3 separate regions of the Homo sapiens genome follow, and regions 1 and 2 are each linked to region 3. The links come from fine-mapping of genetic effects on plasma protein levels. A gene starts in region 3. Each other region holds a variant in brackets. All regions are shown on one strand. Distances are between the middles of the regions.

Evidence for each region. PIP is the posterior inclusion probability: the model's chance that the variant is causal. The UK Biobank Pharma Proteomics Project read protein levels with antibody pairs (Olink). The fine-mapping took linkage between variants from a reference panel, not from the people measured, so its PIPs are less certain.
Region 1: its variant is fine-mapped to the plasma level of the ADAMTS15 protein (UK Biobank, PIP above 0.99). The variant lies in the coding sequence of ADAMTS15. If it changes the protein, the assay may bind it differently, which can mimic a change of level.
Region 2: its variant is fine-mapped to the plasma level of the ADAMTS15 protein (UK Biobank, PIP above 0.99).

The regions. Positions count from the first base shown.
Region 1 is chr11:130,458,210-130,466,383 of GRCh38, reverse strand. ADAMTS15 (ADAM metallopeptidase with thrombospondin type 1 motif 15) reads right to left here. Exons shown (of 8, transcript NM_139055.4): 2 at 4,763-4,895; 3 at 4,130-4,297; 4 at 3,604-3,887. Among named protein-coding and RNA genes, the nearest start is that of ADAMTS15, 14 kb to the right of the region's middle. The variant A/G (reference allele first, on the strand shown) is at 3,822.
Region 2 is chr11:130,473,728-130,481,884 of GRCh38, reverse strand. It overlaps ADAMTS15 (ADAM metallopeptidase with thrombospondin type 1 motif 15), which reads right to left. Exons shown (of 8, transcript NM_139055.4): 8 at 5,240-8,157. The coding sequence ends at 8,064. Among named protein-coding and RNA genes, the nearest start is that of ADAMTS15, 29 kb to the right of the region's middle. RefSeq lists an enhancer at 2,999-4,198. The variant C/T (reference allele first, on the strand shown) is at 7,717.
Region 3 is chr11:130,443,865-130,452,038 of GRCh38, reverse strand. ADAMTS15 (ADAM metallopeptidase with thrombospondin type 1 motif 15) reads right to left here and starts at 3,394. Exons shown (of 8, transcript NM_139055.4): 1 at 2,109-3,394. The coding sequence starts at 3,065. RefSeq lists an enhancer at 1-425.

The DNA.
Region 1 (8,174 bases), 14 kb before region 3:
GTCCAATGGACACGTCCAGATTCCCTTAGAGAAGCAAGTCTGTAGGTCAGGAGCGAGGCCTGGACTGAAGATGCAAATTTGGGAGTCTTCAAGCTCTAAATGGTATTTAAAGCCATGGTCTAGATGAATCAGCGAAGAGATTGAGTGTGGATGGTGAAGAGGGAAAGGAATGAGTGCCGAAGCACTCCAAACTTCAGAAAATGAGAGTACAGGCCGGGCGCGGTGGCTCACGCCTGTGATCCCAACGCTTTGGGAGGCCGAGGTGAGCAGATCACCTGAGGTCAGGAGTTCGAGACCAGCCTGACCAACATGATGAAACCCCATCTCCACTAAAAATACAAAAATTAGCCAGGTGTGGTGGCGGGCGCCTGTAATCCCAGCTACTGGGGAGGCTGTGGCAGGAGAATCGCTTGAACCCGGGAGGTGGAGGTTGCAGTAAGCCAAGATCATGCCACCGTACTCCAGCCTGGACAACGAGAGTGAAACTCTTGTCTTAAAAAAAAAAAAAAAGAAAGAAAAGAAAAGAAAAAAGAAAATGAGAGTACAAGGAAGAAGCAGTAAAGGTAATGAGAAGGGGAGGGGCAGCGTGAGGAGGAGGAGGACAACCGAGAGGCAGTGGAGACCCTGTTCCAGGGCCCAGAGCTCTGGGTTGCCAGAAATGCTGCTAGCCGGCTGGACGATGGGAGGAAAGGTAACAGTCACTGACCTTCGTAGTGTGCAGGCCATTTGGTAGCCTTAATAAGAGTTGTTTTGGAGAAATGATGTCAGTCAAAGCCTGTTTGGAATGGGCAGCAGAGAAAAGTGGGAAGATGGAATTGGAGACAGCAAGCTTGTACAACTCCTTCCGGGAACCTGCTGTGAAGGGAGTCAGAGAAACAGACCACAGAGGAAGTGGGATCATAAGAAGTTTTGTTTCAGATGGGAGAAATTACAACAGGTTTGTATTCTAAAAGGCATGATTCAGCTCAAGATTGGGAAATACTGGCACTGCAGGAGAGAGAGAATTGATCAGCGATGTCCCTAACAAGCGAGAGGGGATGGGGTTCCCGCGCAAAGCACACAGCATGGCCTCAGATCACAGCAGGGACAATTCAGCCACTGTAAAGGGGGACAGTGGAGAACAGGTGCGGAAGCAGGTCGGGAGGTGGGTGGAAGTTCCCTTCTGATTACTTGGTTTTTTCCCCCGTCGGGAAATGAGAAGAAAGGTCATCAGTGAAAGCTGAAAAGGAGGAAGAAAGAGTTAGTAATGGGAGGAGAGAGGTGATGGTGGGTGTGAACTAACGGTTCAGGAGGTTGGGAGAGTAAGCCAACTGGGGAAATGAAATATATGACTCCTGGACAGCATTATGGGCCCACCTAAATTTCTGGGTCATCAATTTATTTTACTTTTTTCTTTTTCTTTTTTTTTTTTTTCCTTGAGATGGGATCTCACTCTGTCACCCAGGCTGGAGTGCAGTGGCGTGATCATGGCTCAGTGCAACCTCTGCCTCCCGTGTTCAAGCCATCCTTCTGCCTCAGCCTCCTGAGTAGCTGGAACTACAAGCATCTGCCACCACATCCCACTAATTTGTGTATTTTTTGCAGACATGGGGTTTTGCCATGTTGCCCAGGCTGGTCTCAAACTCCAGGGCTCAAGGGATCCTCTTGCCTCAGCCTCCCAAAGTGCTGAGATTACAAGTGGGGGCCAATGTGCCCAGCTCAGATCATGAATTTAAACTGAGACCAGTGAGCACAATTGCATGTTTTTCTCACTGGGTGAGGCATGATGGGAAGGCATGATGGGAAGGGTGAGGCATGATGGGAAGGTTGTTGTAGCAATAGATTGTAGGCCCAGATGGGATTGAGGAATTGTTGGAATCCAAAACCCAGAGGGAGTAATCTGGGAAGACAGGGCCTTGGTGGTCAGAATGGGATTCCTGAAACAGATCTGTGGGAGCTGCAGTGATTTGTAAGACATGCTTTATGATCTGACCTCAGCCAGTGAGGGCAATGACTTCCATGAAGGTTTCCTGGAAAGTTTCAGTTAAAACAAGGTGGCCAAGGGATTGTTTAGAAAAGAGGTTGAGGAGGTAGATCTTGCCTGATCATAGACAGAATTCCAGAAAGTGTGGAAAGATGGTGCTTCTCAGACTGCATTTTCTCTATCCAATATTATCTCACCTTGTCTCTGCATCCTCCAGCCTCATCTTCTCAGGACGAGGCACTGGCCACATATTGCCTGTCCTCAGGACCTTCTAGTGCCTGGCAATCAAGGTGGCTGCTGTCTGGCCCCAAATGACCTTCCTGAAGATGGTTCCCATAGAGCCCTCATCTACACAGCCCTGCAGCTCACTCCGACCTGCCCAGGACCGCCCGCCTCCTTGCCTTGCTCTGTTTCTGCCTACAGGGATCCTACTTATCCCTCAGCCTCTCTTCAAATCCAACCTCCTCCAAGTTTTCTCAGCCCCCTCTCATCATCATTAATCTCTTGACCCTGGTTCTCCCGTGACAATTTTCATCCTTCTGTCCTTCCGCATAACATGTGCCTCTCTGTGTCTTGTATCACAGCTACAATTCGAGCTTCCCCACTTGACTGTGAGCTCTCTGAGGCATGGCCTGTGTTTTATTTCTTTTTCTGACCACCACAGTATCTTACACAGTTCCCTGAACACAGTGGGTTTTTGCCTAGCCAACGGTTGAAGGTTTAATTAGACATGTATCCCCAGAACACAGAAAAACATTTTAAATAATTCTGTGCCATACTCATCTCAGGGCAATTGATAATGTGCTTGGTGGATGCTTTTTTGTGACACTGCCTCTGTGCCCAGAGGCAAGTCGTCCCCGAGCTGAGAACAGGGGATGGGAAGGGACAGTCAGCTCCAGGATCCGGGAGGAGAACAGACCTCTTATTCCTGCCCGGAAAAGTACAAATCCCTCTCCTACCCCCAAAACCCCCAAAACAAGACCTGAACAAGATAAAGTTATTATATACAGAGAATATTTGGCATTCTGAATGTGTTCTTGTTTGGTTGCTATTCGTATTTATCAGGAGGGAAAACAAGTATTATTCAACTATGTTCCTGCTAAAGAAAAACAGCAATCGCAACAGAAATGGAAGCTTGATTCAGAATGCAGCCAATTCCCGAAGCTTGCCCAGGGCTTTGCTTCATTGCAGCTCTGAGCCCTGTTCCTGAGCATGGTCCCCAGCTCCCTGGGTGTGGAACACACTGGGAAAGAGTGGATGAGAGAAGGAAGGGATGAGCCAGCGAGTGAGCCGCTCCTGACACTATGTGTTCAGTTTTGAGCCCAGAGCTCCTCCCCAGGTAGGACGAGGCCCGGAGCTCAGGGCTGAGACCCCACGTCCTGTTGAAGGCTTTTCCCCATGTGTCTGAGGCCTCACCAAGTCCTCTGACCTGCCATAGCTTTTCTCTCCGGTCTTAGAGTCAAGAAGGGGATAGGACTATATACAGGGCAGTGAAGGCACAGCTCAGCCATGCAACAGTGCTGGTCCCGTGGCCAGTCTGTGATAGGCACCTTCCTGGTGAAGACCAAGGGCAGACGAGGCCCCCGGGTCTCCATCCCTCCTCCCAGCAGTCCCCGAGCGCAGCTCCAGCACTCACTCACCCTGTGCTTGTTGAGGTTGTGTCTCTCCACGCAGGCCCCTTTGAGGCAGAGCTTGCCCTCGCCACAGCTGGTGCCATCGGCCCAGGGGAAGTGGCGGGTCTGGCACACCATCTGTCCCTTGGCCTTCCCGGTGCACCACAGCTTGGTGCAGTACTGCATGTAAGGACAGGGCTTGGAGCCCACGCCAAAAGCCAGCTCGCACTGCTGGCTCAGGGTGT[A/G]GCTGGCGCCCGGCAGATCCTCGGGCAGGGAGATGGGCTTGCTGGGTTGGTCCAGGAGGCAGTCACCTGCAGAGAGCCGAGGGCGTTCGTTAGGATGAGCTGGGAAGATGAGGTTTGGCTAGCCCAGAATCTGAATGGTAAGGGGATAATGAACCAAGGGCAACAGGAATGCACTCATGTCAGAGCCCGGCTCCGAGGGGGCACACACACCTAATGTACAGAGGACGGAGAAGTGAGCACCTCCACCAGGGGCAGCAGCAAAGCCCCCTCCGAGGCGGCCTCATTGCCCTCCCGCCGTCCTGGCTTACCGTGCCCGCTGTCCAGGAAGTCGGTGATGATGGCAGCACTGCAGGCTGACCAGGGGTTGGCACGGTCGATCTGGATGAGGGTCGGGGACATCATGTGGTTGGCTCGGAGCTTCCCAAACACCTCCTCACAGACTTTCACATTGTCATGGGGCATGTTGAACACGTGGCCTGTGGGGTAAGGCAAGAGGACTGAGAGGGCAGGAGGAAGGACATGGGGGTTGGAGGGAGGAATGGGGCAGGGGAACTAGAAAGCCCATGTCAGAGGTTTTCAGGCTGGTCATTGCCAACTATCGACAGACTGCTTTCAAATGTCCTCAAGATCATGTTCTTGTGTTTTCTGTCCCCTCCGTCAGGCTGTGGGCTCCCTGACAACAGAGTGTACCTCCTTGTCGTTAACATGGTGTCCCCACAGTGCCTAAGTGCTGAGACACTCTGCCAAGGGGCTCAAACCACGTCATTGGCCAGCGGGGCTGGGGCAATCGGAAAAAGTACAAAGCTGCTGCTAAGGCTCACTGTGCCCTAAGAAGGGGTCCTAAGGCTTCAGAACACAAGGGGGCAAAGACACACGTCTCCCACCCTCCAGGCTCCCCAGGCAAACCCAGAAGACCCCAGGAGGAGCTTATCCAGCCTTACCCAGCTCGTGGGCAGTGGTGAAGGCTGATGGAAGCCCATCGTCCTCAATGACAGAGCAGCTTCTCTTGGGGTCACACATGGTACCCACATCAGCCATGCCCAGGGTGTCACAGGTGGTGGCTCCACACAGGTCCTGCCGGGTGGGGGAGAAGCAGAAGCCAGCCCGAAGTTAGAGACAGTGACAGAAGGGACCTGAAGGGAAGAAAGGACATCCTATAGGACATTCCAGCTCATCTCATTCCAACCTCACCAGGCCCAGCACCTTCCAGCTGGGCTCTTCTTCCTAGGAGGTTGTGGGGCTGTTCACAGAATCAACCTGGCTGAGGGAGGAAACCCAGGAAGAGCTCTGTGGCTTCACCAAAAACACTCTGCCCAAACCCTATGCAGGGAGGTCCTCTGGGAGGAAATTAGGAGGTACAAAATTAAACTACAAGGGCCACTACTTTATAGAGAGACGGCCCTCCAGACCAGAAAAACAGTGACTCCCATAGCCAAGGGAGGCTCGCTGAGGCAACAGGGAGGAAGCCAGTCCCATTCCCACCCAGAGGCAGCTTCGAGCAGCCTCGGTCTTTGCTGGGCTGCCTTTTGGCCAACCATGAATTAAGTTAAGATTCTCAGCCAGAGGGCTGCTGGCCAAGGACCCACCCATGCCAGTGATCAGGCTGGGAGGAAGCATTGAGGTGGACCCCAGACCCCATCCCGGCACAGTTTCATTGGCTACAGAAGCTCAAGGGGACACACGCTCAGTGGCTGCTAGGAAGAAAGATACATGAAATAGAGAGATGGCCACCTAAGCAGGAAGGTCCCTCGTTTTGTACTGAAGCTTAACTTGGCCACAGAACCTAGGGCCTCCAGCAGAAAACCCTGACAGGAAGTATTCCCAGGGGACGCAGAAAGGCAGGATAGGGCTTCCGGGGTGGATATCTCAAAGAACTTACTGAGCATCGTTGGCCAGAAACACATTCAGATAACTTAAAAGCCCAAAAGTTGGAAATAGGATAAGACATTTGTGTACATTCTGCTCCTCTTAAGAAGACGTGTGTTGGGCCAGGCACGGTGGCCCACACCTGTAATTCCAGCACTTTGGGAGGCCGAGGCAGGTGAATCACCTGAAGTCAGGAGCTCAAGACCAGCCTGGCCAACATGGCGAAACCCCATCTCTACTACAAATACAAAAATCAGCTGAGCATGGTGGCAGGTGCCTGTAATACCAGCTACTAGGGAGGCTGAGGCAGGAGAATCGCTTGAACCTGGGAGGCAGAGGTTGCAGTGAGCCAAGATCACACCATTGCACTCCAGCGTGGGCGACAAGAGCAAAACTCCGTCTCAAAAAAAAAAAAAAAACAGAAGATGTGTGTTGAATCAGTGATGCTGGTTCTCTCATTACATCGCTGCCTTTAATGCATAAGGCATTCTGCATTTCACAGGAAGCTGCTACATGTGTCACCTCATTTAATCCTCACAATAGGCTTATGATGCAGACATATTATTGTATCTATGTGTCAGAGGTGGGAACTAGGCTCATGCCTATAGTTCATCATGGCTATGATGTATTAAATGCTGACACTGTGCATGCACTTTGCACACACAGCCCTATTTAATCCTCACAACATCCCACTGAAATAACGACTATTACTACCACCTTCCACAGGCAAAGAAGCATGTGTCTGCATGCATGTGCACGTATATGCAAGGCCACATGTGCATCTGTGTACATGCTGGCAAGGGGCGAAGGTGGGCAGCAGCACAGCGCAGGGAGCCAGGAGCCAGGGGGCATGGGAGGAAAAGCGGTCAGAGTACAGAAAATCAGCAAAATTTAATCCAAAGCACTCAGAGGTTTACCACCTGAGCAGTCAAACTTGGCTTCCCACGGTCAGATGATAGTCACACCTCCTAATGAGTGAACAGTTATTCCGAGGGTGACCAGCCTGAACCCGGGTGCACCAGAGGCAGTGATGTGTGCCCTGCACACCCAGCCAGGTCTGCCACCTGTGCTTGCTGGAAGCACTACCTCCACTTCTAGGAGCCCCATGGAGGACTTCAAATGCCCTTCTCTTCCCATATTCTTTCGTCTTCAAAGACCCACTCTCCCAGAAAGTTTTCCTTCCCAAGAGCTCTGAAACCTAGAAAACAACCACTGTCAAAACTTGGGAGGGGCCTGGGCGCAGTGGCTCATGCCTGTAATCCCAGCACTTTGGGAGGCCAAGGCAGGCAGATCGCTTAAGTCTAGGAGTTCAAGACCAACCTGGGAAACATGGTGAGACCCTGTCTCTACAAAACATAAACAAAATTAGCCAGGCATGATGGTGCACACCTGTAATCCCAGCTCTGCCTCCCAGGTTCAAGCGATTCTCCTGCCTCAGCCTCCCTAGTAGCTGGTATTACAGGCACCTGCCACCATGCTCAGCTAATTTTTGTATTTGTAGTAGAGATGGGGTTTCGCCATGTTGGCCAGGCTGGTAGGAGGAGGCTGAGGTAGGAGGATCACTTGAGCCTGGGAGGGTAATCTACAGTGACCCGTGATCACGCCACTGCATTCCAGCCTGGGTGACAGAGCAAGACTCTGTCTCAAAAAAAAAAAAAAAAAAAAAAAAAACACTTGGGAGGGGACCTTCACCCGACCAGCAGTTTAGGGAATGTGACAGCTGAGAAACATGGATCAGCGTGTGAACTGTGGGGAAGGGAGCCAAGATGAGGGCAGGGATGAAGGCTCTTGCAAGGGCATAGTGAAGGATGTAGGTGTAGGACGGGTGTGGTGTAGGACCCAGCAAGGCTGGAGCTCTGGACATTCTAGCCTAGCAGTTGCAGCCTGCGGGGGCAGGCACCTACCCTTGCCTCTGGGCTGCCCTGCACACTCACTGCTCCCTGTGTAAGAGGGAGAGGGCGCAGAAATAAGAATCAAGAAGTCTAGATTCCGGTCCTGGCCCTATCACTAAGTAGATGTGTGACTTTATCCAAGTCCTCTCTCTTCGGGGCCTTGGTTTCCTGCTCTGGGGAAGGGCCAACTTTCAACTAGAGCCTGAATCAACCAGTGCTTTCAGCCTCTGCTCCTTCCCCAGTCCCAGAGCATGCAGCCCCTTCTGGCCCTGTAGGTTATAAAGGGAACCCACAGAATGACATATTTTTAGAACCCCAAGGAACATCTTGTCTACTGACCCAAGTCATGTAGTTGACAGCACTCGCTCTCAGAAAAGTGGAAGTCACCCACGTGGAGATTCAGAGTCCTGTTCCCCGGCCCCGCTCTTCAGAAATGCCTAGACCAGGCAGGATGCAGTGGCTCGGGCCTGTAATCCTAGCACTTCGGGAGGCCAAGGCGGGAGGACGACTTGAGGCCAGGAGGTCAAGACCAGCCTGGGCAGCGTAACAAGACCCCATCTCTACAAAAATTAAAATTTAAAAAAGAAAGAAAGAA
Region 2 (8,157 bases), 30 kb before region 3:
GGCCACCCGGGCCATGTCTAAATAGGTGACTTTTAAAGAAATAAGACTAAAGTGAACTTACCAAGACATAGTGCCCTGGACTCATGGGAACTAACAGAAACTTTCCCATTCAGCAGCTAGGTATTTATCTAATGATCTCGAAGGCAATCTATATGTGCAAACTTGCCTAGGATGTTAGGGGAAAAAATAGCAGTGGCCTAAACCATTGGAATCCCCGTTTCGGATAGAGATTAGGCAACAAGGAGATTTAGCCAGATTGCTTCAGGAAGGTTTTCTTGCCCAGATATAATACATAAAATAAACCTCTCATTCAGAAGATCTTCGGTTTTTGTCAACCTAAGTCCCATCCGCTTGCCAATCCAGTCCACAGTGTGTTACACATTAAAGCCACAGGCTTCCTTATGGGTAACATATGTTGCTGAGACACGTGGAGCCATAATATCTCGTAACCCAGTGATACTGTCCCTAGAGTTAATACAACTCCACTAACATATGTTTCTGCTATTCCCATCCTGAGATACCAGTATTGAAATATATTATGCACAATGTACAGTTAATTGAAAGATACAGGGGGTATATTAAAAAATAAATCTGTTTCTACGACCTCTGCTAAAGTACATTTGAAATACCATATCGTTGATTTCACACTAGTGTACGTGAACTATCTCTGTTGTTTTTTCTGGTCTCTATTTTTTCCTTTCACTCGCCCATGTCTTCTTGGTGCCATGCTAACCACACCACACTAAGGCTGGAGGTTGAGGGATGTGATGCCAGGAACTAAGGCAGTGGGTAAGGAGGCGTGGTTGGAAGTGAGAGCAACAGGAGAAACCATCAGTCATCTCATCCCTCTGAATCCTGGCAGTACCATATTTTAGAAACTTAATCCCAAGAGGAAGTCAAGTACATCCGCCTTTCCCCTGCCCTTGTTGCATGCTCATATCTCTGAGTCAAGGAATGGCCTAATTTTATACTTCTTTTGTAAAGCAAGGAAGTCGTTGAGATGGAAAACATTAATCTGCATTTCCTCTGACATTGCTTTTATTGTCATACGCTGCACACGGTTAGCACTCAAGACCAGCTCATACTTCTCCTAGATATTTCTAGAATTTATGTCATCCTCTCCAATCCACTTACACTGCCAGGCTTTCATGGTCTTAAATCTGGATTATTGCAGGAGCCTCTTACTTGGTCTTTCTGCCAACAGTCTTTTCCTATCCCAGTCCATGCTTACTACCAGCTCACTGGAGTGGTGAGCTAATTACAGTCTGATTTAAAATATTTCCATGGCTCTCTGCTGCCTGTCAAACAAAGCAAAAACTCCCTAATGCAACATAGAAGGCCCTCCATGATCAGACCCCAGCCCAGCCTAGGCTTCAAGCCCACCACTCTCTCATGTATTCTACAGTCCAGCCACATCAAGCTGTTTTCATTCCTGACCTCCATGCCATCGTACGTGCTGGCCACACTTCCAGGAATCTCCTTATCTGCCCAACAAATTCTATTCATTCTTCAAAACTCAGCTCAAGAGCATCATTTCCTCTGACTCCTTCCCAGGTCCACTCAGTGATTCCTGCAATTGCTTCGTGTATAATTCCCATAGATCTAGAAGCATACCTCTGTTGGAGCACTTCTCATGCGCCATCATAATCATTTTCTCATGTCCATCTCCCCCAAAAAAATGTTTCTCGAGGAGTAGGCTAAGCGGTTCATTCTACAACTTCTTCAGTAAATACAGGGCTCGGAGTCCTGATGCTGCCATTTACAAGTCGGGGGAATATCTAAAGGTCCCTAACATCTTTGATCCTCAGCTTCCTGATACACGAGGAGGGGCAGTGATAGAATATAATTCATAATGTTGTTATGAACAATAAATACAATAAGAGAAGTAAAGACCTTAATAGAATGCTTATATATAGTTAATGCTGGGTGATGGCTATTATCATTATATGATTACTGTGTGCCAAGCACTTAGTGCCAAGACAATTAAAGCCTGCCCTCGAGGTCTTTAGGGTATAGCCAAAGAGACGGACAAGCAATTCGCTCAATGTCAGAAGACGCAGAGGGTGCCATGAGAGCTCAAGATGGGGCACCTGCTGTCACTAAATGTCACACCTGCTGGAAAGATTGAAAGCGGACGAATCTGAAACAAGGGAAAACAGGTACAGACTACGGATATACTCCAGTGAGACATGATGCTGGCCTGCACTACAGCAGCAGCAGTGGGAAGGAAGAAAGGGACCAAGTTTGAAGATATCCTGGAGGTGGAATCAAGTCATGTGACTGGATGAATAATGAGATGTTTGGGGTGGTCTGTGTGGGGTTGGTGGGGAGTCTGGGTGAACACAGGTGGGTGGGAGGGTTATGTATGCAGACGCAGAATCCACTGATGTGTTGGTTTTAACTGAGCAGTGAGATAGCACGTGATCCCCAAGGAAAGCGTATGAAATGCGTGAGCTGAGCAGAGGGCTGCAAGGAGCAGCAGCACCGGGCAGGCGGTGAAGATCAAACAGGACCATGTATGCAGACAGACAGTGCCTACACTGAGAAGCGTCCCCACATTTCCACCGGAGACAGGCTCCTTCATCCCTCTTGGTTTACTGTGTGTTCCCAAGGAAGCCTCTGCGTCACAAATACTCATTGACCACTGACTGTGTCCCAAGCCCTGGGCTCTGGGTGCTGTGTGTAACTGCAGCTTCAGAACCAGGTTCCCATGCACTGCAGACTCAGCCCAGGGAGGGTGCTTAGAAAAGCCATGTCATCCTCCTGAACACATTTCCAGAGCACTCTCAAAGGCTCTTTTCTCAAAATCCTCAACAACAACAAAACCACATCAGGAGTATCTGCTCAATTACCCATGGCAGAGATTCGGGGTACTCCCTGCTGAGGCCAGAATCCCAGTCCCCTGAGGTCATCTGAACTGTTGGTCAGATGTCTGGGACAGCAGTGGCTTAAGGCCCTGGACACTGTCTGGGACCGTGGCTAGGTACAGGAACGGGGAATGATACGAAGGCAATTGTTTCTAACAGCCTAGGAGTACAGCTAAAATCTCATCAAATTCCAGCCATTCCCCATGACAATATTTTCACCCTTTTCCCAAATCCAGTTTTTCACGAGGAGATTCCCTCCTCTCTTCATCTCCCTCTATCTTACCCTTTCTGCTAAAATTGTTCTCCTTTGGAAACAAATAGTTCTGTTTCTTCTTTGGAATGCCTCGGGAGGTCAGGAACTCTTATCTCCTCCTTCACAACATTCTGGTCACTGCTTGGAACGTGACTTACGTTACTGACCACAGCTCAGGAGAGCAAAACAAAGGCAGGGCTGCCCAGCTGAGCACGAAGGGGTGGGCCTGAAGGGAGGGGAAGGTGAAGGCTGAGTTTCTGGCTGCCCTCTCCCTCCCCAGTTTCATGCTTTGGAGCAGCAAACATTTCACTGCTGCCTTCTCACAGCTGCCGGGGGCTGAGGGGTGACACCATGGCAGTGATGAAGGGGGATGTTCTGCTCTTCTGGGATTTGTTGCTGGGATTGCAGGCTTCAGGGCTGACTCATCCATGAGGGCTGGAGACAAGCCAAGGAGCAAAGGAAAGACACTTGGGGTCACACGCGCTGCCCTTGGCCACGCCAGCTCAGCCTGCTGGGGGCTCGCCAGGGTTCACTGGGCAGGCAGAGCACGACCCAGGGGTCGACACCTTTTTGTAATTATCAAGGTTTTTTCTCACTGGGGCAAGAACGCATTCCCCTCCAGAGGATGGATTACAAAGCAAATCGTTCCTACCTCTCTTCAAAGGCCAGCAAATTTAGGAAACTGCTGCTTCCTTCTCCAGAAACTTTAAAATGCAGCCAAGCTTGTTGCCCGCCACACACCCCATTGCCTTACCTGGAGCTCTCCTGAGCCTCCAGGCGCCGCTGTAGTTGGGACCCAGCCTCCTCTGCTTCCTCTTTAATTTGCTGATCCCCAAAGCAGCCCAGAGGACCTTTTCCTTAGAAAGGTTTTACTGGCAATTGCTTCAATGGAAAACAAAAAGGATTACAAAAATAACCCCAGGAATATGACAACATTTTGAGCAATTTTAGAAAGATCTTACAATTGCTGACTTCCAGTTTATACATTAACCCAGACCCCTGCAGTTCCCTTCTGGGCCTTCTGCTAGCTCATAGACTCATGCAGCCTCTTCTGGCTAGTTCTTCCTTCTTCCAGAACCTTCTATCAAGTGCTGAAACTTTGTCCAACCTCCCCACATCCCTCACCCACATGCCTGAAGGGGCAGCTCTCGCAGCTCAAGAGGAAGTCATTCCCCATGGCCTTGCCCTGCTGGAAAGTCAACAGGAGAAACCCCTTCATCTCTGAACCCCAAACTGAAAACAAACCATCAGCTAGCAAAATCTAAACCATAACTGGGCCTAGAAACCCAGACTGCTAAAGCTGAACGTGCCCTAATAGAACACTGAATCTACCCTTCTCACTTTGCAGGTAGGAAATGAGGATTCCAAGAGAGGATCTCAGACCCGCGACCAACACGAGTTTCTAGATGTTCTTTGCAATGCGTCACACCTCTCCCACGCCTGTATATTTGCTAACATTTCCAGACCAGCACAAAACTAGGAAGAGAGAAACATTCTCTCTCCAAAGAGAAGGAACCTTTCCCTCGGGACACTTGGGGTTTCCTCCTAAGGCAGGAGACTGGAAGCCCACAGGACAGGGGCCCCTCTGGCCTCTCCCGTGCCTCGTCCCTTCACCCACGCACGGCCCCAGAGCTTCTCTCAAGCACTCCTGAAACCCCGCCCCAGCGGCCCCCAGGACTGGGCCTTCTGCTTGTCTGCTACAAGGCCCGTCCCCTTTTAACAGGGCTGCTGTCTCACCCTTCAATCTGTTTCGTTGTCCCTTCCTCTGAGGGGCTTTCCCTGATCACTCTCTCCCACACCCAAGCTTTTTTTTCTTCGTTTCTTTTTTCAGCTCCTTCTCTCTGAAAAAGTTCAAATGCGATCAAACGCCCACATCCAAGCTCCCACTCTCAGCATCAGTTGGTGTCTCCTTCACTTGTAGCACGATCTGCCACAACTCTCTGCTTGCTGACTTGAGCTCTGCCTCCTCAGCTAACCTGGGAGCTGCACAGGACCAGGACTGTGCCTGTCAAGGTCACTGCTGTCTCCATAGCTCCTAGCACAGTGGCTGGCGAAGCTGGGCATTCCATGGATGTGAGGAATGCATGCATGAATGAGAAGCAGTCACAGAGGCAGGACACAGGTTTTAAATACTTACAGCTTTATTAGGAGAAGGCTGTGGTCACCTCAGCAGCCAGCTCCCTTGTATACACAGTATACACAGCCCAGCCAGCACCCAGGTCCTTCCATCCTTCTGCAGTACATGGAGTGCAAAAGAACCAAACACAACGGCGGGGAGGGAGGGTCTACCAATGAGTGTCAGTGTCTAGTGCTTCCGGGAGCCAACTGCCAGGCTAGGGACACTCAAGTCCCTCAAACTGTCATCAGCTCCTGCCAGACCCCACTCCAGCATGTCGAGGTTCATATGAGAGTGTTTGGGCCAGACTCCTCCAATCAGTGCACGCGATGGGCAGAGGAGGCTAGGGAATCCTGAGCCCAAAGCTGTATTGGTCCATCCCCCTCAAGAAGTTGTTGGAGCTTTCAGAACGTTCCTCTTCTTGTGTAGACATGAGATACCGCTGTAACTTTACTCCATCACCAGAAACCTGTGCCTTGAGTCTAGTCTCTGCTCAGCCCTCGAGAGCATGGTTGGATTAAGGAAATAGTCAAAGGCAAGCAAGACAAACTCCCTAGGTTGTCTTGGTCATGCGTCTTTTAAAAAGGGAAAGAAGAAAAACCACCACAACAGATAAAAGCACCGAGGCCTGGCTTGTGTCAGGAGCCAGAGAGGTTGTCCTTCCTTGAAATGGTTTGTAAAGTGACTGATGGCAAAAGCTGCTCTCCTCTACTGGAGGCCAGCCTCCTACCGATGGCACCTCTCTTCCCACCCACCCAATCCCCCTGCCATCCCGCACAGACCCCATGCCACCCTCTCCTCCTGAAGGAGGGAGTGCACCAAGCACAGGGCGCAGTGCTGTCGTCAGCTATCAAGGATCTGCTTCTGCCTGGTACCCTGGTCCTTTTTGTCCCTTTAGCCCCACAGTGGTCACTGGCACAGAGGGGTTCCTGTTCACTTAGTTCTTCAGGGGTGACTGCAGCCCTGCCTCAGAGACTGGCACCCCCTCTGCCCCCGCATGAACTCTGTCCAAGGTTTCCAGCCCAGCGTTAGACCGGATGAGAACATCATCGCAGAGGCTTGGCTGGCTGGCTGGCTGGTTTGTGGATTCTGACTATTAGGGAAACCCACATAAAAGAACGGAACTCTTCTCTCCCAGGAAGACACATGCTTTGATCTTAGCTCCAGAAAATTCTCCACTGAGGACCTGGATTCATCACCTACACTCAGAAGCAGAATATCCCATGTACACAGTGGGGCATCTGAACCTTCAAGAAACACCCTGCTTAGCCAAAGAAGCTGTGACCCCAAAATATCTCCCCACTTGGAGCTAGAGAAAATGCCTGTTTCTATTTTCCTGACATGTCTATAAGACAGACAGGTCTCCAGCAGTTCATACTAGTGGCTGCCAGGCCCCCTGGGTCAGTCATTGATTCTTGGTGCCTCCTGAAACCTACTCCCAAGGAGTCTGAAGAGGCCCTGTCTTCGGCTTTGGAGCCCCAACAGGGGGCTGGGCTGTGGGGAGCAGGAAGCCACGCACCACACCCTCATTTCTGTGGCTGGACAGCTCGCTCTCCAAAGACTGAGTGTGGTGGAAGGACCAGGTCACCACTGTCCTAGGGGAGGGATACGGCTGGGTTCCCAGAGGGCATAATCTGAGGTAGCAAACAGTGGAGAAGCTAAGGCCTAGGATGCAACGTGACGTGCCCAGGGCAGACAGCAGTAGCTGTTTGGAACGAAGACGAGTTTATAGGCACATAGATGTTCAGCACCTAGCCCTCCTAGGCATGCCCCAGCCCCTCACAATGGGTACGGGACTGTGGCCACTGTCAGGGCTGTCTGAGGCGACACAGACCCTCGGATGTCAGCCTGCATATACGTGCCTCTCTGGAGGAGGAAGCCATTAGAAATGCAGCTTCCTCCTCCCTATCCCAGGGTGACATCTCCCAAAGCCAGGCCCAGAGCTCAGCACCAACCCCAGTCCAGTGACAGCAGAACCCTCCAGAACTTTCTGAAAACTCCCTGCATCAGCCACAGACTGCATAGCCCCTAGCAAATGTCAACATCTTTCTGTAATGGCCGGCTCCATCTTGAAGAAGACAGCAGACTCCCTACTGGCTTTCCCCGCTACCTGCAGAGCCTCAGAGGACACTTCCGTGGCAGCCCTACCACTAGTCCTACACCCTGCACATCAGAGGAAGGAGAGGCTGCTTCTTTATAGGAGGGCCAAGAGTGCAGGATGAGAAACCTCGGGACTCCCTGTGCACGTCCACGTCTTCCAAGGTGGAGTGCCAGGCTCCAGGGGCCCTAATCTCACTCTCCCCGTGGCTTCTGCCCAGCCCCAGCCAGCTTTTATTGCTTAGTCCATGTCAGTTCAAAAAGGAAAGTGGGCTAAAAGCACCGTGAAAACCCTGCCTCGTTCAGACACGGCTCAGAGCCCATGGGGCCACCTGAGGGTGCCAAGCTGCTGGGACATGGCTCTTCCAGCAGCCTGTGGCCTC[C/T]GTTCTGGGGGCCGGGGTCCCTGAAGTTCTGCCTGGAAGGTGCCCATCCTCCAAGTTCCTTGGAAACTGGGCCTCAGCACCTTCTGCCCTGCACCTCAAAGCCTCTCCCCGCAACCGGCCCGAGGAGCGGGGCCTGAGGTAGACTGTGCGGGAGTTCCTGGGCTTCCCTCTGCCCAGTCCAGGGAGGAGGAGGGAACCTCTCGCCCCAGCCCATGGTCCTTGTCCCCGGATGTGGGTGACATCGTGGCGTGAGCCCCTGGCCACCGTCCTCTGCCCGCTACTCCAGCTGGCAGAACGCTGGCATATCAGTGGGGTGGAGAGTGAGGGGGAGAAAGCGATGACCCCACTCAGCACGGCCTCAGGACGCAGAAGTCCAGCTCCTGGGGCTTGCGGTGCAAGTTGCACTGGTCCCGGGCCAGCAGCCGGCCTCCGTGGCCCACA
Region 3 (8,174 bases):
TGAAGCATAAAGTACATACCTTGATGGTGGCCCTGACCACACAGAAGCCTCACTCTCTAGCTTTGCTCTCTAGGCACCTAAGGGGAAGGCAGCTTCTAAAAGTCACATTTTGCACATCACTGCTTCTGATCCAGTGGTCATGCATCTTGTACCCATTATGCATGGACAACACAGCCCCCGGGGGGTTGAGCACACACCACTGAGAAATAGAAGCTGTCATGCTGTTTGATTGCTTCTTCTTCAAAAGGCGGCCTCCTTCTGACGGCATGGTCCCTATTCCCAGCAGGAGTTCTTCTCCTAGGGCTGACTCCAGAAGCCAGCCTTCACCACCAGGCTGCAGAGGCTGAGGTCTTTTATTTTGGAGCCAGTGAGTGACCTGCACTGGGGCAGCCCAGGTAACGAATGGGGCAACAGCTGCTTTGCCCATTAAGATATCCTGTTCTTGGCCTTTGCTTTTTTTCAAGCCCCAGCAATCTAACTGCCAAGCTGGTCTGTGTGCAGAGGTCAAAGCCACCTCCTTTGCAGCTTCCCCATGACTCAGGCAGTGCTTGCAGAGGCTGGGCAGTGGCAGCTCAACAGACCTCAGTTGGAAGAATGAGCACAAGGAAACAGACTCAGGCCAAAGACCTCCCTAGAGAAACCAGGTGGTGGGAGGAGAAGAAGGCTGGGAACAGAGGAAGTTCGACTCCAGGAAGGGACTAGCTGTGCCAAATGGGTTACTGTGGAAGACTCCAGCTCCAGACTGTGTGCGCCAGTCCAACTTTGAGTGACCATTTGGAAACAGTGGAGAGTTAGAGCCCCACAGGTAACCAAGGATTCCACGCCATCCCCAGAGTGCTGTGGTTATGATAATAACCAAAAAAAAGAGCATGGCACAGATTCAAGTCACAGTCCCCCAAATCAGAAGAAGAGGCTCACTTGGATGGCTCTTTTCCTCCCAGCCTCCTGTATCTGAGAAATTTCAAGAATCCAAATACTCCTCAGTGCCCAATCACTCCAACACCTGTGAATCTAAACGTTTGCAGATTTGTAGCTTCTTTGACATAGAATATCAGGAAAGGCCTTGCAAAAGGCAGGGCTGCTTCCTGGGCTGGGTCCATCTTTCTAATCCCAATACTCAGTTTCCTTCTAACTCTACAGCTGGAATCTCCAAATACTCTTGACTAAGCTCACACCACTTCCACCCCAGCAAGGGCAGAAGCTAGAGCCCTGAAGTCAAGTGTGGTCATAGGAATTTTAGTGACTTGGGAGCAGGAGCAAGCATGCCCGCTCTGCTCTGTAGTATACATCTGGGCAAACGGGTCACCCTCTGACAGCAAGGATACAGGAAAATTGGAAGAGATTTTCCCAACTCAGCTCCAAGTAAAACTCCACTTGAAACTCCAAGTGAAACAGTCTCAGCTCCAAACAGGTGCCCTAACTACACCGCCTGCTCAGAATGGTCTAGAAGCCTCTTGGACCATGCCCAGCAGAGAAGTCTGTAGGAGAAGCGGCAGTGAAGGAGGGATGCTCGCAGTACTTGAGTCTGGCCTGTCACTGCAACCCACAAAATCTCTCAATGATTCCCTCCACCCCAATCCAGGCTTTCCAGGCCCAGTACAGAGAGGGGACAACGTGTTACCCGAGAGAAATGTAGCAAGCGCTGACCTTGGATCACCTTCAGTTCTACAACCCTTGAAAGGAGACCTCAGGAGGTGTCCGAGAAGACTCAGCCGCCCATACAATAGGGGTGGGCCGTTCCCGCCCTCTCCAACACCATCCTCACGGCGTCTCCTATCGGTCTTGGACACAAACTGCAGCTCCGGGGCGGCAACTTCCTGGGTTCCGGCCCCTCGGCGCCTGATCCAGGAGGCGCTGATTGGCCGCGCCAGGCCAACACCTTCGGAAAGCGCAGGCTCTCCTCCAATGGCCCAGATGCACGTGAGCCGCCGCTCCGCGGAGCGTGGGAGAGGGCTCTCCCTGGAAACTCCACAGAGTTGGAGTCGGAAGAGATCAACGAGGTTTAAACTCGGAGGCATTGCACGATACAAAGGGGATTTGGAGCGCTAGGGGAGGTGACCCTAAAGAACGGGACTATCTGGGTGCAAAGTGACGGCAGATCAACTCACCTGCCTGGTGAAGAGGATGGCAGTGTCCCAGTACTCGGGGTGCTTGTCACTCACTTTGTTCAGCTTCTTCTGCCAGGCACAGAAGTTGCGCAGCGTCAGGGCCGCATTGCCGGTGACCTTGGGCCCGGAGTCACGATCTCTAAGAAGCAGCACCTTGACCACAACGATGTTGATGGGGTTGAGGATGCTGGGATGGCGGTAGAGTCGCGCCGCCGTTGCCAGCAGCGTCAGCAGATAATGTTCCAGGTCCGCGCCGTGGAACTTGACCATTGACTCGTCCGCGACCACCAGCGTCTCCACGTACCGCGGGATAGACACGAAACGCTTGGCGCGCCCAGACCTGCGCCGGCTACGACTCTCCCCGAAGCCCGCCCGCCGCGGCTTGTAAGGGTCCAGGGCCCGTAGGATGGCGGGGTTCCAGCCCGAGGCCACCCCGCAGCGAGAGGTGGGGTCTCCGGAAGGCCCGCCCGGAACACCCCGGCGCTGGAGAAGGTGTGCGCCCTGGCTGTTGCGCTGCGCCGCCGGCGCGCTAGCATTGGGCAGCGGGCTAATGACATACTCGGCGCCTCGGTAGCCAAAGGCTCCGCGGAGCCCCCCGCACAGGCTCACAGCAGCGAACGAGTCCGGCTCGGCGTTCACGTCCCCAGAATAGAAGCAGCGTCGCAGGTCTGAAGAGCCCCCGGTGAGCCCCTGGAGGGGGACGCCCAGATGCTCAGTGGAGAAGGCGGGAGCCAAGAACTGAGCATCCGGCGTCAGGTGTAGGTAAAAGTCCTCCTGAAATGCTGTGATCTGAAAAATGAGTCCCTGATCCCCGGAGTCCTCGGGACCCCGCCAGTAGTAGCGGCGGCCGTTAATGTCCGGGTCCAGTCGGATGGGAACGACTACCTCCCGCTCTGGCTCAGAGCCTCCAGCGGTTCGCCCGGCGAAAGCCAGGGTTAGGATGCCCAGCAGAAGCATGGCGCCGGGCAGCGCACCGCCGCGCTGTGGGAAGGGGCTGGGCCGGGCTCTCCGGCCGCTGCCGCGGTCTCCGTGCAGCCCGCACTCTGGAACCGCCAACGCTACGGGACAGCCGGCAGTTCCCAGAAAGGAGAGCCAAGGGAGGGAGACTCCTCCCAGGGCGGCGAGCGTGCACCCGGCAGCCCGCGCTTCCTACCTGTGCCTTTCCAAGCAAAGCGCGCCCTGGGAGCTTAAGTACAATCGCTGTCAAGTGCAAGGACGAAGATTTGCAGCCGAGAACTAGCGGAAGGTGCCGGGCGGCTTCTCGCAACCGCAGCCACTCGCAGCGCAGCAAGCCAGGCGCTGGGCGAGCCTATTAAAGGCCCCCTCCTCTTTGGACGGCCCAGTCAGCGCCCCTCCCCTCACTCCCCTCCCAGCCTCCCAGAGCTCGCTGCCGGAGCCTCCAGGGGCCACCGGAGAACTCGGTCCCGCCTCCAGAGCGGAGAGCCACTTGGCGGGGAGGGAGTGGCATTGAGCTGAGGCAGGAGGCGTGGGCTGGCCCGAGAAACCGGCGCTGAAGTCTCAGTTTGCGTTTTGCTCTTGGTTATGCCCCACTGTCCCGACGCCTCACTCGCTTCTGCCCCCGCGGACAGCGTTCACTCTCTGGGTCTTAGTCTTTTATCTCAGGGCAGATCAGGTCAGCAGCTAGGAATGAAGACCCTTCACTGACCCGTCCCCAGGCCCACCTCATCCCTGCTGTTGCAACATCCCTGCTGTTTCTTAATCACAGAGTCCCCTAAAAGACCCAGAATCAAGAACCACCCCCCCCCCCGCGTAAATGTCCTATTGCCAGAAGAGCAATAGGACAGGGGCATGGGAGCCCTCTGGAACCCAAGACCGCCTAGCCCCAAGGTCTGCCCTGGGCCCATGGTGTGCTGGATGGGCTGGGGCAAACTCTTCAGTTCTCAGGAATCTTGCCAGCCAGCTGTTAATCACGGACATTATTAAAAATTAAACTAAACACACTTACAATTAAACAAAGTGTATATATATATATGCACACACACACACATACATATATATACACATACATATATATATATACATACACACACACACACACACACACACATATATATATATATTTTTTTTTTTTTGAGACGGAGTTTTGCTCTTGTTGCCCAGGCTGGAGTGCAATGACGCGATCTCAGCTCACCGCAAACTCCGCCTTCCGGGTTCAAGCCATTCTCCTGTCTCAGCCTCCCAAGTAGCTGGAATTACAGGCATGCACCACCACGCCCAGCTAATTTTGTATTTTTAGTAAAGACAGGGTTTCTCCATGTTGGTCAGGCTGGTCTCGAACTACCGACCTCGGGTGATCCTCCTACCTTGGTTTCCTACCTCCTACCTTGGTCTCCTGAGTAACTGCGACCACAGACACACGACACCACGCTAGGCCAATTTGTGTGTGTGTGTGTGTGTGTGTGTGTGTGTGTGTGTGTGTGTGTGTATTTTTGGTAGAGACTGGGTTTCGCCGTGTTGCCCAGGCTGGTCTTGAACTCCTGAGCTCAAGCAATCCACCCACCTCGGCCTCCCGGTGCGGGGACTACAGGCGTGAGCCACCATGCCTAGCCACAAAGTACATTTTTAAAAGGTAATAAATACTCAAAACCCGTCGCTTCCTAAGTATTTGATAATTACTTATGGTCTTGAGCCACCAGAACCGCCAACCCTCTGAGACAGCAACTCCCAGAAAAGAGTGCAGAATGGGGTGGAAATGTGAGGGAAATATTAAATGGTGTGCTGCCCTGCATCTCCCCAGTCAGGGACATCACAATGGCTTGAAATAGGTCCTGGTAGAAGTATTTACACCACCTGAATAAGCAAATCAGAGCTGGGGTTGGGGGCAGGAAGATGAGCCCTTGTACACAGCTACCTGCCTGGCAGGGATGTGGAGATCAGGTTCTGGGGCTGCAGTTACAAGAGGAAGAGGCTGTCTTCCAGCAAACAGTAGAAAAATCGGGCCAGGCTTCCTCCATGAAATTATCTCATTTGACCCTTGACCAAACCCTGGACTGGGGACTGGCATAGGAGGCCGAGTGAGTATCAGCTGGAGAAGATGCAATCGCACCTTATGTTCCCATCTAGTTTGGAGAACAGCCCAAGGAGTTTTTCAGGCTCTAGACCTCAAGATCCTTCTTACCTCTCCGCAGAATCAACTTCTTTCTCTGACAAGGGAGAAAGGCAAGGAGAGGAGGGAGGCTTTGCTACTCTCTCCTGATACCTAGAAAATCTTTCTGGAGCCAAAGGGCTCTGAGTTGAGTTTGCAAGAGGGGAGGACAAAGAAGGGAGTGTGTGATGATTTTAAGCATAAAGGGGATGATGTGGGAGAATTTTGGAATTTTTTTTAGGGAAGTGGCTGTTCAAGGGAAGAACTCTATTGTCCAAGGAGAGAAAAGGCTGGGACTGGTCCATCAGTGAAGAGCACTTTTTGCCCATTATCTTCTCCCCATAAAGGATCCACTCTTGGAAGCGCCCCCTGGGGCCTTGGAACATGAAGATGGCTCAGATGCCCATAATTCCAGTGAGGCCTCTCCTTGATTGGGACACAAGGAGCTGAAATTCATTATGTGAATGAGTGAGAGATGGGTGTTTATACTCTGCAAATGAAAGAGAGTGTATGGGTATGGGAGGACTGTGTGTGAGACAGGGAGTTCAAGCTTACAAAGGCCCTGTGTGTTTGAGCGTTCAAAGAGGGCCTATAATTAAAGAGAAACGCAGACAACCAACAGCAATGATAAGTCATTTATTTGGGGCAAGCAATTGTTTTACTACACCCGGCAGTTTTAAAGGTGGATTGCAAGGTTTTCAACGGCACTTTACTTTCATTCTGACCCATGGGTTTTGGCAAGGGCTGCAGCATGTCAGTCAAGATGGCAGGGACCTGAGACAGGAAGTCCCTCCCACTTAGTGCTCCCCCTGCCCCAATCACAGCCCAGCTATTCTCACCCCTGAGCACAGAAACTGGCCATGTGGATTTGCTCAAAGGGATTAGCATGTATTGCAGGCTTAGTATGTGCTAAACATTGCACCAAGAGTTATATGTGCATTCTCGTATTTAATGCTTGACTGTCCCCTCTTGGAAGCCTGTGGTTCCATCCAATCACTTTTGCCAGGGAATTGAGGATCTAGGGATATGTTGAGCACTTGAGTAGAGGTGATACTCAGGATTGGCACTCCACTTCTATCACTGATCTGATTCTCTGACTCGTCTGTCAAAAGAGAAGGGGTTATCCTAGCTCAGAGGTCTTCAGCCAGAGAACTGCATCCAAAATCTGTGGTCTAGATAATACCTAAGATAACGACCAGGTCAAATATTACATGACTGATTGAGGCCTATGGAAGGGAACATAGTACAGTGATTTAGAGCCCATGGTCAGAGGGCCCTGTGTGCATGCCTCCACCAGATCTTAGCTGTGCAATCTTGGGTAAATTACTGTACCTCTCTAAGCCTCACTTTTCTCATTATTAAAATGGGGATACAAATTCTACCCACTGCCTGGACTAAATGAGTTAATATTATACTTCCAAAGTGTTTGGCAATGCTTGGTATATTTTAAAAGTTCCTTAAATATTATCGAATAGTACTGCTAATATTCTTATGTGCTATTATTATTACTCCTCCTAGTGCTATCAGTCTCTGCTAGGCCCTCCAAGCTGATTGCTGTCATCACCTTCTGAAGTTTTCTGGGGCGTGTCCTCTCCCAGTTCTGCTCGGGAGCTTTCACATTGGCTCCCACGTCCCACTTCCATAACGGGACTCCACAACCGCCATGGAGTTCTCGCTTCTCCTGCCCTCCATGATCTTAACATCCCTGGAAAATAAAAAGCAACTCCCTGTCAATGTATGAAAATGAAAATTTTTTAAAAAGCAGCTCTTCCCCCAGAGGACGACTGGGGGTCTAAGCCATCTGTCAGATCTAAGACCCCCAGCTTGGCCTTTCTGTCCTTCGCCAACTAGGCTGGCCTCTTCACAGCCTCCAGGTCTCAGCCCAAGTACAGCCCCCTCAGAGGGGCCTTCCCAGACCGCCCAATCTGAGAAGTCCCAAGTCACAATCATGATTGCATGTTTTGTCTTGTCCACTAGCATTTACCTCTATCTCTCTATCTAAACCTATTTTGCTCACTTAGATCTTTTTTTTTTTTCTTGACTGACTTCCCTCCGTTAAAATGAGAGCAGGACCTTCCCCATCTCGTTCACTGTTATATCTCCCAGAGCCTGACACAGTGCTGGGCTCACAGGGGCGCTCCAAAGATACTGAGCAAATGAATCAACCCAATTCTAATCCAGCTTGGTCCCTTACAGTCTGTAAAATATTGGACAAGATACTTCATCTCCACAATGAAAATGTGGCTCTCTCATAGAGCGAGTGCCTGACATACTTCTCTCATAATTATGTATTTCTACATCTCTCTGACAAAAACCTTAGCCTGGCACCCTAGTTACCTAGCCCAGTACCCTAGTCACCTAACCCAATACCCCAGTCACCTAGCCTAGTACCCTAGTCACCTAGCCCACTACCTTCATCCCATAGGTGTGGCAGCTGAGGTCCAGAGAAAGGAAGTTACTTGCCTAAGGCTACCCAGCCAGTTTCTCTACTCATCTCATGAAATCGTTTCTCTTTACTCTTCATCTGAAAGCCTGGCCCTAGCTAAATTCATTAGCTTGAGTGCTCCTGCTCAGAAAGTGTTCTTTCAGCATGCGTATTTATGTGAGCCTTTCCTCCCATACAGAATGGCCTCTCAGCCTCATCCATGCCTGCCTATATAACCCTCACTTCCTATAGGAAGCCCCTTGACTTAACTCACACAGCTCTGGTTGCTCTTTTTTGTTAGTTCCTCTGGCATATATGCATCCCATTTCCAGCATAGGCAGAGTCCATTTGAACTCGCTTGCCCTTTGCTAATTGTGTGTTCATCCCTTTTCCCGAGACTGGGCTGCAGCCACACTTGTCTGGAAACTCATCAAAAGGAGGGCTTCCTTTCCTATTATACTAGTCTCCATGACAGTCCCCAGAGGAGGTGTTAACTTCCTGGTCAAGCCAGCTGGATGCGGCAGGTTCCAGGTAG